4 linked regions of the Homo sapiens genome follow. The protein of the gene in region 3 purifies or fractionates together with the protein of the main gene of each other region. This does not show direct contact. Each region holds a gene or a part of one and is shown on either strand. Other genes may lie near its edges.

What was found. Proteins that work in one complex are often made in the same cells at the same time.
Region 1: the proteins of CAMKMT (region 3) and TUBB6 purify together in Homo sapiens (affinity purification with mass spectrometry, with the first as the bait; one study listed by BioGRID). This does not show direct contact.
Region 2: the proteins of CAMKMT (region 3) and NPEPPS purify together in Homo sapiens (affinity purification with mass spectrometry, with the first as the bait; one study listed by BioGRID). This does not show direct contact.
Region 4: the proteins of CAMKMT (region 3) and COL1A1 purify together in Homo sapiens (affinity purification with mass spectrometry; 3 studies listed by BioGRID and IntAct, with this or other methods). This does not show direct contact.

What each region holds. Positions count from the first base shown.
Region 1 is NC_000018.10:12,318,241-12,321,740, forward strand, and holds part of TUBB6 (tubulin beta-6 chain), read left to right. Parts: intron 1-2,295; exon of another isoform or gene 2,296-2,422; coding exon of another isoform or gene 2,423-2,504; intron 2,505-3,500. UniProt on the Homo sapiens protein: Tubulin is the major constituent of microtubules, a cylinder consisting of laterally associated linear protofilaments composed of alpha- and beta-tubulin heterodimers.
Region 2 is NC_000017.11:47,593,608-47,597,107, forward strand, and holds part of NPEPPS (puromycin-sensitive aminopeptidase), read left to right. Parts: intron 1-2,745; coding exon 2,746-2,855; intron 2,856-3,500. UniProt on the Homo sapiens protein: Aminopeptidase with broad substrate specificity for several peptides. Involved in proteolytic events essential for cell growth and viability. May act as regulator of neuropeptide activity.
Region 3 is NC_000002.12:44,763,947-44,767,446, reverse strand, and holds part of CAMKMT (calmodulin-lysine N-methyltransferase), read right to left. Parts: intron 1,018-3,500; coding exon 886-1,017; intron 1-885.
Region 4 is NC_000017.11:50,191,632-50,195,131, reverse strand, and holds part of COL1A1 (collagen alpha-1(I) chain preproprotein), read left to right. Parts: intron 1-31; coding exon 32-85; intron 86-303; coding exon 304-411; intron 412-505; coding exon 506-559; intron 560-684; coding exon 685-783; intron 784-948; coding exon 949-1,002; intron 1,003-1,090; coding exon 1,091-1,189; intron 1,190-2,084; coding exon 2,085-2,138; intron 2,139-2,281; coding exon 2,282-2,335; intron 2,336-2,438; coding exon 2,439-2,492; intron 2,493-2,603; coding exon 2,604-2,657; intron 2,658-3,107; coding exon 3,108-3,152; intron 3,153-3,245; coding exon 3,246-3,344; intron 3,345-3,500. UniProt on the Homo sapiens protein: Type I collagen is a member of group I collagen (fibrillar forming collagen).

The sequences.
Region 1 (3,500 bases), on a different chromosome or scaffold from region 3:
GGTGCTGCCTGCTAGGTTGGGTGGGGAAGGGGTGGAGAGAAGTTGGTGGGGGCTTAGGAAGGACGGTGACCATTTTCTCGCCTACTAAGAGAAGGCAGTCAGCTAGGATTCACTGTGCAACACAGCTGGGCAGGAAGAAGAGAATCCCCTGTTTGTAAGAGAACAGTCACATACTAGATGCTGTCTACGGCTTGTGAAAAACACAAGGAAACGGCCACCTGAGAGTACTAAAGTGGCCAGGCCCACGGGGTGTGCTGCAAGCACACAGCAGGCATCTGCCTAGCCCGGCCCCTCTGCAGAGCCATAGGGCCTGCCATGCCAGTGACACTGGGCTTTGGACTGCCAAATGGGGCAAAGACAATAGGAGAGAAAGGCTGAGCTGATTTCTCAGTGGGACTGAGACGGAGATCTAGGGAGGCTGATGCTGCAGACAAGTGCAAGGGCCCTCTGTGGTCAGTTTCAGCTGGCCAGTTCTGCTCTCTGGAAACTTCAGTGTTCAATATTTAAATGTGTGGTTTTGTTTGTTTGTTTGTTTGAGATGGGGTCTCGCCTTGTCACCCAGGCTGGAGTGCAGTGGTGTGATCATAGCTCACTGTAGCCTCAAACTCCTGGGCTCAAGCAGTCCTCCCACTTCACCCTCCTGTGCTAGGATTGCAGGTGTGAGCTCCCATAGCTGGTCTTATACAAAAAAAAGTGTTTAATGTTTTCATGTCAAAGTTAAAACAAAGTGCTTGTACATGGTTTTTTCAAACAGTACACATAGATTGTGTATACAGTGCAGAAAGGGAAAGCTGTCATCCCTTCTACTGGTGGCCCCTGAGGTTTTATTCCCTAGGGGGATAACCGAGTGTGTAGACAGTTGTGCTGTGTCCTGCTGACATTTTTCCTTTTTCCTTTTTTTTTTTTTTCTTTTTTTTTTTGAGACGGAGTTTCGCTCTTGTTGCCCAGGCTGGAGTGCAATGGCGCAATCTCGGCTCACTGCAACCTCCACCTCCTGGGTTCAAGCAATTCTCCTGCCTCAGCCTCTGGAGTAGCTGGGATTACAGGCACCTGCCACCACACCCAGCTAATTTTTTGTATTTTTAGTAGAGATGGGGTTTCCCCATATTGGCCAGGCTGGTCTCGAACTCCTGACCTCAGGTGATCCTCCTGTCTCGGCCTCCCAAAAGTACTGGGATTACAGGTGTGAGCCACCGCGCCCGGCCCTGCTGACATTTTTCTGTGTCCATGTGCACCTAGGTGAGCACACAGAGCTGATTTTGTCTGGGGAAAATGGGATCCTGCTATACACACCATTTTGCAGCCTTTTGAAAAATTCATTAATGTATCTCAGACATCCTCCGTGACAGTCACAGTGCCTACCATTGTATATGTCATCATTTAGTAATTTCCCACTTACTGATGACATTTTAAAATTTTTCATTAAAGAAGAGCTGGGCTCAGGCGTTCACACCTGCCATCCCAGCACTTTGGGAGGCCAAGACAGGATGATCACTTGAGTTCAAAAGTTTAAGACCAACATGGACAACATAAGGGGACCCTCTCTACAAAATTTTTCTTTTTTTTGACGGAGTCTCACTCTGTCGCCCAGGGTGGAGTGCAGTGGTGCGATCTTAGCTCATTGCAAGCTCCACCTCCCGGGTTCACGCCATTCTCCTGCCTCAGCCTCCGGAGTAGCTGGGACTACAGGCGCCCGCCACCATGCCATGCTAATTTTTTTTATATTTTTGGTAGAGACGGGGTTTCACCATGTTAGCGAGGATGGTCTCAATCTCCTGACCTCGTGATCCACCCGCCTCGGCCTCCCAAAGTGCTAAGATTACAAGCGTGAGCCACCGTGCCCAGCCAAAAAAATGTTTTTTTAATTGTCCCAGCTACTCAGGAGGCTGAGGCAGGAGGATCCCTTGAGCCCAGGAGTTGGAGGCTGCAGTGGCTATGATTGCACCACTGCACTCCAGCCTGGGTAGCAGTGGAAGACCCCATTTCTAAAATAATAATAATAAAAAATTCCTTTTTTATACTTTAATATTCACTTATCATAAAATAAATGTTTTAGTTAAAATGTCATAAAGCTAGAAATGAACTCTCTTAGGACCCCATCCTTCAAAGACAACCTGTGCTTTCTTAATTGCATTGTAAATGTTTTAATAAAGTAATTTTTTTTTTCATTTTGCTAGCTAGCTAGGTAAAACATTTTCATGGTTTAGGACTTAAAAGGAACAAAAGGGTATATAGTGAAAAGTTGATCTCCTTCCTACCCCGAACTAGTGTTAAGATTCTTGAATGTCCTTTCAGGTATGTTCAGGCAGACGCATATATTTACACACATACAATGGAGCCAGCTGTATACACTGTTTAGTACCCTAGTGTTCCTCCCTGGCTCCCCAGCAACGTATTTTGAAGATCTTTCCATTTCACAAGTATGGCTGCCTCATTCCTGTTGATGGCTGATAGTATCCTCTGCAGAGATACCGCCGTGGATTTAACCAGTCTTCAGTTGATAGGTATTTGGGTTGTTCCCCTTTTTATTATTATAAATTGTTCCTCAGTAAACATTTGTATATATGTCATTTTGCACATGTATGGGTCTATCTAGAAAAACTTACAGAAGTGTAATTGCTGTGTCTAGGGGGATAATTTTGATAGCTGTAGCTCAGCTGTTCTACAGCCCACTGCCCTTGCTATCTCCAGTAGCTCCCGTGGGAAGTGGCCTTCCCCAAACCCTCAGCAGTGCAACTCAGGTGTTTGGATCTCTGTCAGTTTCACAGCAGAAAAATAGAATCTCCTTGTTTTAATTTGCGTTTCCCTTATGAGAAGGGTTTAGCATTATTTCCAGTACCTAAGCTATTGGAATTTCCTTTCCTGTGAGCTGTATGTTTATAGCCTTTGCCTGTTTTCCTAATGGCTGTTGTTTTTCTTACTGATTTAAGGACTTCTTTAGATATTGAAGGAGGGTATCCTTTATATGTGATATGAGTTATTAACAGTCCAGTACATACATTTTAACATTAAGTTCAGTACACTTAATGAAGAATCACAGAATTTGTTTTTTCTTGCACTGAACACCTACAGTGTGTAGCACTGATAAATGCTTCATCCCCCCCAAGAGTAGAGCCACTGTGTAAGGCTGCACTTGTTATGTACTGCAGAAGCCAGGGGTGCCATCAGTAGACCTCATTGTGAGCAGGCCCGTGTCCCAAATTGCATGGGAGCCCCTTGTCCACTAATTAAAGATTGACAAGTGAAAGGCAGCTTGCTTACCCGATGTAGCACTTGGCAGCTCTCAGAGGCAGCCTTGGTGGTTTCACTGCTTCATAGTTCAGTGCCCCCAGGGTGAGTGCAGCATCAGGGATGGACCTGCCCACGTGAAACCAGAGAGGCTGGTCTTTGGCAGTGGCTGTGAATTGTTGCCACCAGCCGTGTGTAGACAAAAGTCAAGTTGGAGTAAGTGGGGAGAGGTCTGTATAATGCAATGCAAGTTTTTATGACTTGAATTAGTT
Region 2 (3,500 bases), on a different chromosome or scaffold from region 3:
GGGATATGTTCTGAGAAATATGTTGTCAGGCAATTTCATCAATATGTGAACATCATAGAATGTACTTACAGAAACCTACACAGTATGTCCTAGGCTATGTACACCTAGCCTACATGGTATATACCCTGTTGCTGCTAGGCTACAAAATACCTGTACAGCATGTTACTGTACTGAATACCATAGGCAATTATAACACAATGGTATTTGTATACCTGAACATTTCTAAATATAGAAAAGGTACAGTAAAAATATGATATTAAAGATGCTCCACCAGCTGGCTGATATGCCTATAATCCCAGCACTTTGGGAGGCTGGGGCAGGTGGACTGCTTGAGTCCAGGAGTTTGAGACCAGCCTGGGCACCATGCCAAAACCTCGCTTCTATAAAAAGTACAAAAATTAGCTGGGTGTGGTGGCATGTGCCTGTAGTCCCAGCTACTTGGGAGGCTGAGGTAGGAGGATCACTTGAGCCTGGGAGGTCAAAGCTGCAGTGAGCTGTGATTGGGCCACTGCACTCCAGCCTGGGCAACAGCGAAACGCGGTCTCAAAAGAAAATAAGGTGCTACACCTGAATGCAGCTTATAGGACAACTTATAGAGGTTGTTCTAGTTGAGTGAGTGGTGAGTGAATATGAAGGCCTAAGACATTACTATACACTACTATAGATATTATAAATACTTTACACTTAGGCTACACTGAATTTATAAAAATAATTTTTCTTTCTTGAATAATAAATTAACCTTAGCTTACTGTAACATTTTAAATTTACTTTTTAATTTTTTTAACTTTTTGATTCTTTTCAATTCTTTTTTTTTTTTTTTGAGACAGAGTTTCGCTCTTGTTGCCCAGGCTGGAGTGCAATGGTGCAGTCTTGGCTCACCACAACCTCCGCCTCCCGGGTTCAAGTGATTCTCCTGCCTCAGCCTCCTGAGTAGCTGGGATTACAGGCATGTGCCACCACGGCCGGCTAATTTTGTATTTTATTTTATGTTATGTTATGTTATGTTATGTTATGTTATGTTATGTTATGTTATGTTATTTTTTGAGACGGAGTCTCGCTCTGTCGCCCAGGCTGGAGTGCAGTGGCGCGATCTCGGCTCACTGCAAGCTCCACCTCCCGGGTTCAGGCCATTCTCCTGCCTCAGCCTCCCGAGTAGCTGGGACTACAGGCGCCCGCCACCACGCCCGGCTAATTTTTTGTATTTTTAGTAGAGACAGGGTTTCACTGTGTTAGCCAGGATGGTCTCGATCTCCTGACCTCATGATCCGCCCGCCTCTGCCTCCCAAAGTGCTGGGATTACAGGCGTGAGCCACCGCGCCTGGCCTATTTTATTTTTTTTAAAGACAGGGTCTTGCTCTGTCGCCCAGGCTGGAGTGCAGTGGTGCAGTCTTGGCTTCGTTGCAACCTCCGCCTCCTGGGTTCAAGTGATTCTCCTGTCTCAGCCTCCCAAGTAGCTGGGATTACAGGTGTGTGCCACCATGCCCAGCTAATTTTTGTATTTTTAGTAGAGACAGGGTTTCACCATGTTGGCCAGGCTGGTTTCGAACTCCTGACCTCAGGTGACGTGCCCACCTCGGCCTCCCAAAGTGCTGGGATTGCAGGTGTGAGCCACTGCACCCAGCCTAATTTTGTATTTTTAGTAGAGATGGGGTGTCTCCATGTTGGTCAGACTGGTCTTGAACTCCAGACCTCAGGTGATCCGCCCGCTTTGGCCTCCCAAAGTGCTGGGATTATAGGCATGAACCACTGCGTCCAGCCTGGATATTTTTAAAGTGAGGTTAATTGAATGGGTATAACGGTCTTAAGTTTGTCAGTGATTGTTTAGTAGTGATCTTGAACACATTTCAATTTCTTTGTTTCTCCTTAACTCATCTGTTTATCTTTTATTATAATTTGTAATTTTTCTTATAAATTAGAATGATTAAGTATATCTCAGAATAAAAGACCAGTTTTGGCCAGGTGTTATGACTCACACCTGTAATTCCAGCACCTTGGGAGGCTGAGGCAGGTGGATTGCTTGAGCCCGGGATTTTGAGACCAGCCTGGGCAACATGGTGAAATCCCATCTCTACAAAAAATTGCAAGAAATTATGGGCCAGGTGCGGTGGCTCATGCCTGTAATCCCAGCACTTTGGGAGGCCGAGGCAGTGGATCACCTGAGGTCAGGAGTTCAAGACCAACCTGGTCAACATGGCGAAACTCCATCTCTACTAAAAATACAAAAATTAGCTGGGTGTGGTGGCACATGCCTGTAATCCCAGCTACTCAGGCACCTGAAGCAGGAGAATTGCTTGAACCTGGGAGGCAGAAGTTGCAGTGATCTTAGATCATGGCACTGCACTCCAGCCTGGGCAACAGAGCAAGACTCCATCTCAAAAAAAAAAAAAAAAAAAAAAAAAGCCAGGTGTTGTGGTGTGCACCTGTAGTCCCAGCTACTCAGGAGGCTGAGGAGGGAAGATCACCTGAGTCTGGGAGGTCGAGGCTGCAGTGAGCTGTGATTATGCCACTGCACTCTAGCCTGGGTGATGAAGTAAGACCGTATCTCAAAAAATACCAGTTTTTATGATAGAATTTACTTAGTTGCAGAAGAGGGGTGGCAAGGGGAATGTTAATTTGGCTCACTGTTTCCTGAACCTGAAAGAACCAAAGAATTAGCAGTGTAGTGTCAAAAGTTAAATAAAATTTCTTTTTTGTTTAGGAAAATAAAAATATAAACATTTTAGATTATCATTGTTTATCTTCTAGAGGATCTCTGGGAAAGTTTAGAAAATGCTAGTGGTAAACCTATAGCAGCTGTGATGAATACCTGGACCAAACAAATGGGATTTCCCCTCATTTATGTGGAAGCTGAACAGGTAAACATATAAAGTCTTTCCATTTGTCTGATATTGTATTAAATGAAGTTCAGTACAGTGTATCAAGTTTGCTTTTCTGTACTTTAAGTTTTCTAGTGACATTTAAACCAGCCCTGTTACTCTTTTATCAGTAATTTTACAGCTTGCATCATTAAAATTATACATGCTTAAGAGAGAAAACAAAATGTTACTTGCTTGTCTAGTCTCCAGGGAAAATACTGTAAAATTTGATATAATTCTAAAACCACCAAATATGGTTTATTCTACAAATGCAAGGTTGGTTTAACATTTTTTAAAAAATTAGGCCGGGCGTGGTGGCTCACGCCTGTAATCCCAACACTCTGGGAGGCCGTGGCGGGTGGATCACTTGAGGTCGGGAGTTTGAGGCCAGCCCGGCCAATGTAGTAAAACCCTGTCTCTACTAAAAATACAGAAATTAGCTGAGCATGGTGGCACACACCTGTAATCCCAGCTACTCTGGAGACTTAGGCAGGAGAATTGCTTGAACTCGAGAGGTGGAAGTTGCAGCGAGCCGAGATTGTGCCACTGCACTCCAGCTTGGGCAACAGAGCGAGACTTCGTCTCAAAAAAAAAAAAAAATCAATGTATTGATTTATAATCACTACATAAACAGAATCAAATGCA
Region 3 (3,500 bases):
ATATTACAGTCCTGGGTAATAAAGGATGCTGTTCACATTGTCCCAGGAGAAAATTAAGCTCGGGCCTTTATTTTTCTGCAGTTACAACTTGTGAAATCATGACAAGTTAAAGTCTCTTGCCAAGGTCAGACTAGCTCAGTGAAGGGAGATTTCCGTAAGGCACAAAATTACTGAAATAATACATGTTATACTAGTCACTGTGACATGTACTACTAGCAAACGTGAGAATCCTAAAAAGTTTTCAGTGAAACACTCGCCTCTCAGTGTCCTATATTGGTCTATACCTATAAATAATAAAAAGGCTGATAACATTGCTTTATGTAAGCAGGCTTAGAAATCACTCTCAGATAAGTGCTTTTGACCTAAATCTTGTAGTGCCTCCATCTGACATATAACCCCACAACTGTGAAATTCTGTATGAGATTTAACAGTCTCAAACTGCCAACTGACCCAGCTATAAAGCAAGCAGAGATAAAGATTTACAGTCCAACATGATACAATTAGACATTCACCTTCTATTTATTTCAGTGCGGCTAAGCATTTAACCTACTTAAAAGCTGAAGGTTTTTCATTAAAATATAAATGCATGTTATTCATTCTATGCCACCTCCCCTTACATCCTACAAATTAGTCTATTATGAATGAAAAGATTAGTTTGTTTCAGAGAAAAGAGTAAACAGGAATGGTTTCTGTAAAATCCTTCTAGACATGCAAAGATAAAAGATGGCTTTACCACACAAAATAATCAGATACAAATAGCTGTTCAGAAGCAACACATCTAAGGAGTACTTTAATCAAATATTTAGGTTACCTGCCAAAAAGACCATGATCTCTTCAAAATGCAATGCGGATTAAAGTGTTATCTAACACAAGCAGAAAACTAACCTTGGAGTGGAAGTTTGAAATGTGTTCATCATAATTTTCATGTCTTTGGATACAGAAACCAGCTTTTTCAGCTAGATTGCAAAACTGGTTTAAAGTATTCCCTCGGCGTGGGGCAAATACCATCGCTTTCCCCTAGAACAGTAAAAAGGAAATTCACATATTTTAAAACTGGAAGGTAACCAAACATAACAGACATTGGTCAAAGCATTTAATGTACTGCTCTCAAGTAGAAAAACTCAATTGTTCTTGAGATGTCTATGCAGGATGGACATTCACAGTGAGAATAATTTCCAGGAGAGATGTATATCATATAAGAATCGATTTCACATCCAAATGGCCAGTTGCTGTGTTTTATCTTTTTCAAATAATACTTATAAAAAACAAAATGTGGTTGAAAGCCGGTGTTCCGAACAATATGCATTGTCTCAGGTCCAGTGGGTTAAGCCATTGACTAGATTTTAGAGTAACTGGTCCAGGGCAGTGCCATTCACCTTGTGACTCCTTAGCACCTGCCAACGCTTCCCCAACACAGTCCTGGGGCATGTGACAACAGATGCTTACATCTGTTAGTTTTTTGCACCCTGAAAATTCAGTACCAAGAAATCCTTCATAGAGACAAGTAACCACAATTCCTCTTGGAGAGTTTTCATATTTCAGTCCTGCCCTAGCCTTTTCTGTGACCACGCTGTCAGATACAGGCTCCAGGATCTTGGTTTCCAACTTTATTGAATCCCTCATGATGGTCATCACTATAGCCAAGCAGTTCCTCATAGTATTCACATGATTGCTTTTCAAAGAAAGTGGTATAATGAGGGTAAACAGCCTTTTCTAAATAATCCACACAATCTTATGTGATTGTTGCAGTGGGGAGAATGGGAGGAACTGAATAAAGTATGTACTGGATTTCAGAAGACCATCTGACATGAAACTTCACAATGACCATTTGCTAACTATTGGATGCATGCGGATTTTTCCTCCCTCTCAGATGTGTACAGAATGGCCAAACTTCAGAATCTCCTTTTTTTTTTTTAAAAAAAAAAATAAAGATGGCTATATGCTTCTGTTACTCTCAAGGTTACACTTCACCTCTGTGAAATGCCTCTTTAGGTTTTGAGGGAATCATGAAAATATATCTGAGTTTCTTATGAAGAGTGGTTTATCATTCACACCAGCCAGCCATTTCTTGAGCACCTGGTAGTCAGACACTGTGCTAGGCATTCATATGAATATCCTCTCCTTTAGTCTTTAAGCCACTCTATGTTGTAGGTATAGTGTAGTCAGACACTGGGCTAGGCATTCATATAAACATCATCTCCTTTAGACATTTTTTTTTTGAGACAGAGTCCCACTCTGTCACCCAGGCTGGAGTGCAGTGGTGCAATCTCGGTTCACTGGAACCTCTGCCTCCTGGGTTCAAGCAATTCTCTTGCCTCAGCCTCCTGAGTAGCTGGAATTACAGGCACAGTCCACCACGCCTGGCTAATTTTTTTTTTGTATTTTTAGTCGAGATGGGGTTTCGCCATGTTGACCAGGTTGGTCTCAAACTCCTGACCTCAGGTGGTCCTCCCACCTTGGCCTCCCAAAGTGCTGGGATTACAGGCATGAGCCACCGTGCCCAACCCTCCTTTAGTCTTTAAACCACCCTATGTTGTAGGTATTATCAACTCTGTCAGTGAATGATCAGAAGCCCCAGCACTGATGCTCTCTCCACTACACTACATGTCTCCTTATTAGTAACAGTGATGACAATGATAATGATAGCTACCACTGTGCTAGGTGCTTCACAAATCCTCCTTTAATCCCCTCAGCGATCTTCTCAACAACCTGTACAGTAGACATTGCATTTTACAGATGATTAAACATACAGTGAAGGATTTGAAGAATATAAGGAGGAACTGTGGCAGAAAGGACTGGACTTAAGGGGAGTCTCCACCATTAAACAGCGGTGTCACCTCAGGACAATCAGAAAATAATCATAGAACTTTTGAGTTAGAGGGAAGCTTGGAAATAATGTAGTCCAATCTCTCCATTTTGTCGATAAGAACCTTAACCCATCCTCGCTGATCCACTGAGTTTTCTCATCCATTAAATGGGAAGAACAAAGCCTGCCCTGCCTTTTTCCCCCCGACAAATTGTGAGGATCAAATACAGAATGTGAAAATAATTAGAAAGATTATACTGATGTAAGATTAGAAAGATCTACACCACCTAACAGTGCTCTAAAAATGCTATCAATTCTCTCTCCCTCTCCCCTTCGCCCTCACTTACCCGTAAGAAAATACGTGGCTACACTGTCCTGAGCATCAAGTGTGTTTTCATACTGTGTTTACATCAGCCTGTACACACTCAGGCACATAATTATAGCAGCACCAATCATGCCACTACACTTAAGGTTCTGTCAGCTTTTTCAATATTAATTGCTATTTTCAGGCAGTTTTCAAACTTAGCAGCAAAAATTCATTTTTATGTGAAACTAGATATAATACATGGTCTCGGCAGGACAGCAAAAGTCTCCATTAGAAAAAAAAAAACAACAGGGAATGCTGGTAGGTCATTTTAGTCATTTCTAAGAGCTGGTTGCCATTCTGGATTTTTGAATAATGGAAGCTGTTTTA
Region 4 (3,500 bases), on a different chromosome or scaffold from region 3:
TCTCAGCTCATCCTCTTCTCCCCCCTTGCAGGGTGAACCTGGTGCTCCTGGCAGCAAAGGAGACACTGGTGCTAAGGGAGAGCCTGTAAGTCTCCCCGCCATCCTTCTTGCAGCCCAGCCCACCCTGCCCTAGGAGCCCCCTGAGGGAAATCCAGAAAGGAAGAGGAGCCCCTAGTCTTCTGGGGGAGTCCCTGCCACACCCCCAGGAACCCCTGACACTGGAGGCCCAGCCTCAGCCGGCTCTGAGGCTGGCACAGGATGGCCCCTCACCACAGGCCGCCTCCTCCTCTCGGCCCTCTCCAGGGCCCTGTTGGTGTTCAAGGACCCCCTGGCCCTGCTGGAGAGGAAGGAAAGCGAGGAGCTCGAGGTGAACCCGGACCCACTGGCCTGCCCGGACCCCCTGGCGAGCGTGTAAGTGTCCCTGCCCGCCCCCTCCCGCTCCACCCTCATTGCCTGGCTGGTGCCTGTGTGTCGCGGAGTTCACTGGCCTCCTCTCCTCCTGCAGGGTGGACCTGGTAGCCGTGGTTTCCCTGGCGCAGATGGTGTTGCTGGTCCCAAGGTAACCTCTCCTTGCGGCCGGGGGGCTGACCCTGCCGCTCCCTGGGCATCTTCTTCCTCTTTTGGCCCGTGGCAAAGAGCCACAAACTTGAGACCCTAACTGTTCCTGTGACTTCCCCCAACCAGGGTCCCGCTGGTGAACGTGGTTCTCCTGGCCCTGCTGGCCCCAAAGGATCTCCTGGTGAAGCTGGTCGTCCCGGTGAAGCTGGTCTGCCTGGTGCCAAGGTGAGGCCCCAGGCTTTCAGCCTGGCTTGGCCAGGCCCTGACCATCCCGTGTAGGGTCTGGGATGAGGCGTTCTGGATCAGGCCCAAGGGTCTGCCCTCTGGAGTCCTCCCCCACCTCCATCATGCTTCTCCCCAAGTCCCACTCATACCTCTCTGCCTCCCTAGGGTCTGACTGGAAGCCCTGGCAGCCCTGGTCCTGATGGCAAAACTGGCCCCCCTGTAAGTATCACTCCCCCTGAACCCCCTGCCATTGTCCTGTCTGCCTCCCTGCTGTCCTCACTGCTGCTTTCGTGCCTCCCATCCTTAGGGTCCCGCCGGTCAAGATGGTCGCCCCGGACCCCCAGGCCCACCTGGTGCCCGTGGTCAGGCTGGTGTGATGGGATTCCCTGGACCTAAAGGTGCTGCTGTGAGTATTAAGTGAGGATCCATGAAGAGCCAGGGACAAACACACCTGAGACTTGAAGGAGTCCTGGGCTCTGGGCTCAGCTGTGCCGCTGACCTGCCGTGTGGCCACTCACTCTCACTTTCTGGACCTCAGCCTCCCTATCTGTAAAATGAAAGACTTCTCGGCGGGGCACGGTGGCTCATGCCTGTAATCCCAGCACTTTGGGAGGCCAAGGCGGGCAGACCATGAGGTCAGGAGTTTGAGACCAGTCGGGCCAACATAGTGAAACCACGTCTCTACTAAAAATACAAAAGATTAGCTGGGTGTGGTGGTGTGCACCTGTAACCCCAGCTAGTCAGGAGGCTGAGGCAGGAGAATTGCATGAACCCGGGAGGTGGAGGTTGCAGTGAGCTGAGATCACGCCATTGCACTCCAGCCTGGGCAACAGTGCGAGATTCCATCTCAAAAAAAAAAAAAAAGAAGAAAGAAAGAAAGAAAAAATGAAACACTTCTCCAGGCTCCATGACCACTGCTCTGTCCTGGAAATAAGTGTTGTTGGTGGCCCTCCACCCCGACACGTGGGGATAGGACAGGCCTTTGATATGATAGGCACCCCCAGTCTTGGTGGATTCTTTGAGGTCCAAAAGGAGATAGCAGAGAAGATGAAAGCCCTTTGCAGTGCAGGCCACAGCGGGCATCTAACAGGGAAAAGGCAGAGGAGCCTGGAAGGGCATCTTGGGAGGAGTGGGCTCAGAAAGGGCCCAGCAAGAAGCACCTGCAGGGGCATTCCCCGGGGGCCAAACAGTCTTTTGAAAAGAAAGTCCCTTAAAAAGTCCCACTCAGAGTAAATGAGAGGCCCCAGGAGGCCCTGGCTTCTCACTTCAGCCCCCTCAACCCTAACTCCCTTTCTCCACAGGGAGAGCCCGGCAAGGCTGGAGAGCGAGGTGTTCCCGGACCCCCTGGCGCTGTCGTAAGTATCTCCTTTCCATCCCTACCTCCTTCCCATTGCTGCCCCGGCACTTTCTCCTCCCTGCAGGAGGGGTGCTAGAGGCCACGGTCCTCAGCTGCTCGGGGCCTCCTAACCCTGAGTTCCCCTTTGCTCTCTCCCTGCAGGGTCCTGCTGGCAAAGATGGAGAGGCTGGAGCTCAGGGACCCCCTGGCCCTGCTGTGAGTGTCCCTGATGGGGAGATCTGGGGAGCAGAAAAGGGGAGACACCCTCAGCCCCTCGTCTCCTCGGCCTCCCCGTGACTGTAGTGTTCTCTCTGTGCAGGGTCCCGCTGGCGAGAGAGGTGAACAAGGCCCTGCTGGCTCCCCCGGATTCCAGGTGAGGCCTCATGGCTGTCAGGATGCTGGGAGGTAGGGGTAGGAAACACCTCTTTGGTCTCTTCCAGATTCTAAACCTTCCCTCCCTTCTTCCCCCATTTCCCACCTACAGGGTCTCCCTGGTCCTGCTGGTCCTCCAGGTGAAGCAGGCAAACCTGGTGAACAGGTAAGAGGGAGCAGCCGGCCAGAGGGGTGGGAGATGCAGGGAATCCAGAGGGACAGGCCCCCGCTCCTAGCTAATCAGACAGCCATCAACTAGAGGGATTGAGGTTAGACGCCGGAAAGAACTTCCTCCCATGAAGGGAGCAGCACAGAGGGAAGTGGGGGCTGCATGATTGCTAGTCTGGGTGACTTCTTTTAAGAGCTGCTGGAATATGCTGTGACTTTCCCTCAACCCTTCTATTGATAAATCTTGGTCCATAGTTTGGGGAGGGGGGAAGCCTTTGACACATCCCTAGGAGGAAGAGAGGGGCTGTTTGGGATAATCTCAATTCAGTGCTGAGAAGGGGTTCCTCTCTAATCACGGCCAGACCCCAGGAGGAAGGACCGTGCTTTCCAGCAGAGTGGCCCCAGGTGGGTTTTGCTCACTGTCTGTTCCTCTCTCCCTCCCCCTCAGGGTGTTCCTGGAGACCTTGGCGCCCCTGGCCCCTCTGGAGCAAGAGTAAGTAGGCCTCTCTCGCTGCATCCGTCAAGGTGCGTCGTACTTGGCCCTATCTCCAGAGCAGCCTTCACATGCCCTGTCCTTCCCTTCTAGGGCGAGAGAGGTTTCCCTGGCGAGCGTGGTGTGCAAGGTCCCCCTGGTCCTGCTGGTCCCCGAGGGGCCAACGGTGCTCCCGGCAACGATGGTGCTAAGGTGAGGGCAGCGTGGAAGGGGCTCTGGCAAGTGGCCCAGGGACCAGGTCTCACCCCTCCTGCAGCAGGGGATGGCGGGCCATGACCAAAGCCATGGAGATAGGGTGTGGGGTGGGGGGAAAAGACCAGGGCAGGGGCCCACACACAGCCTGGAGTC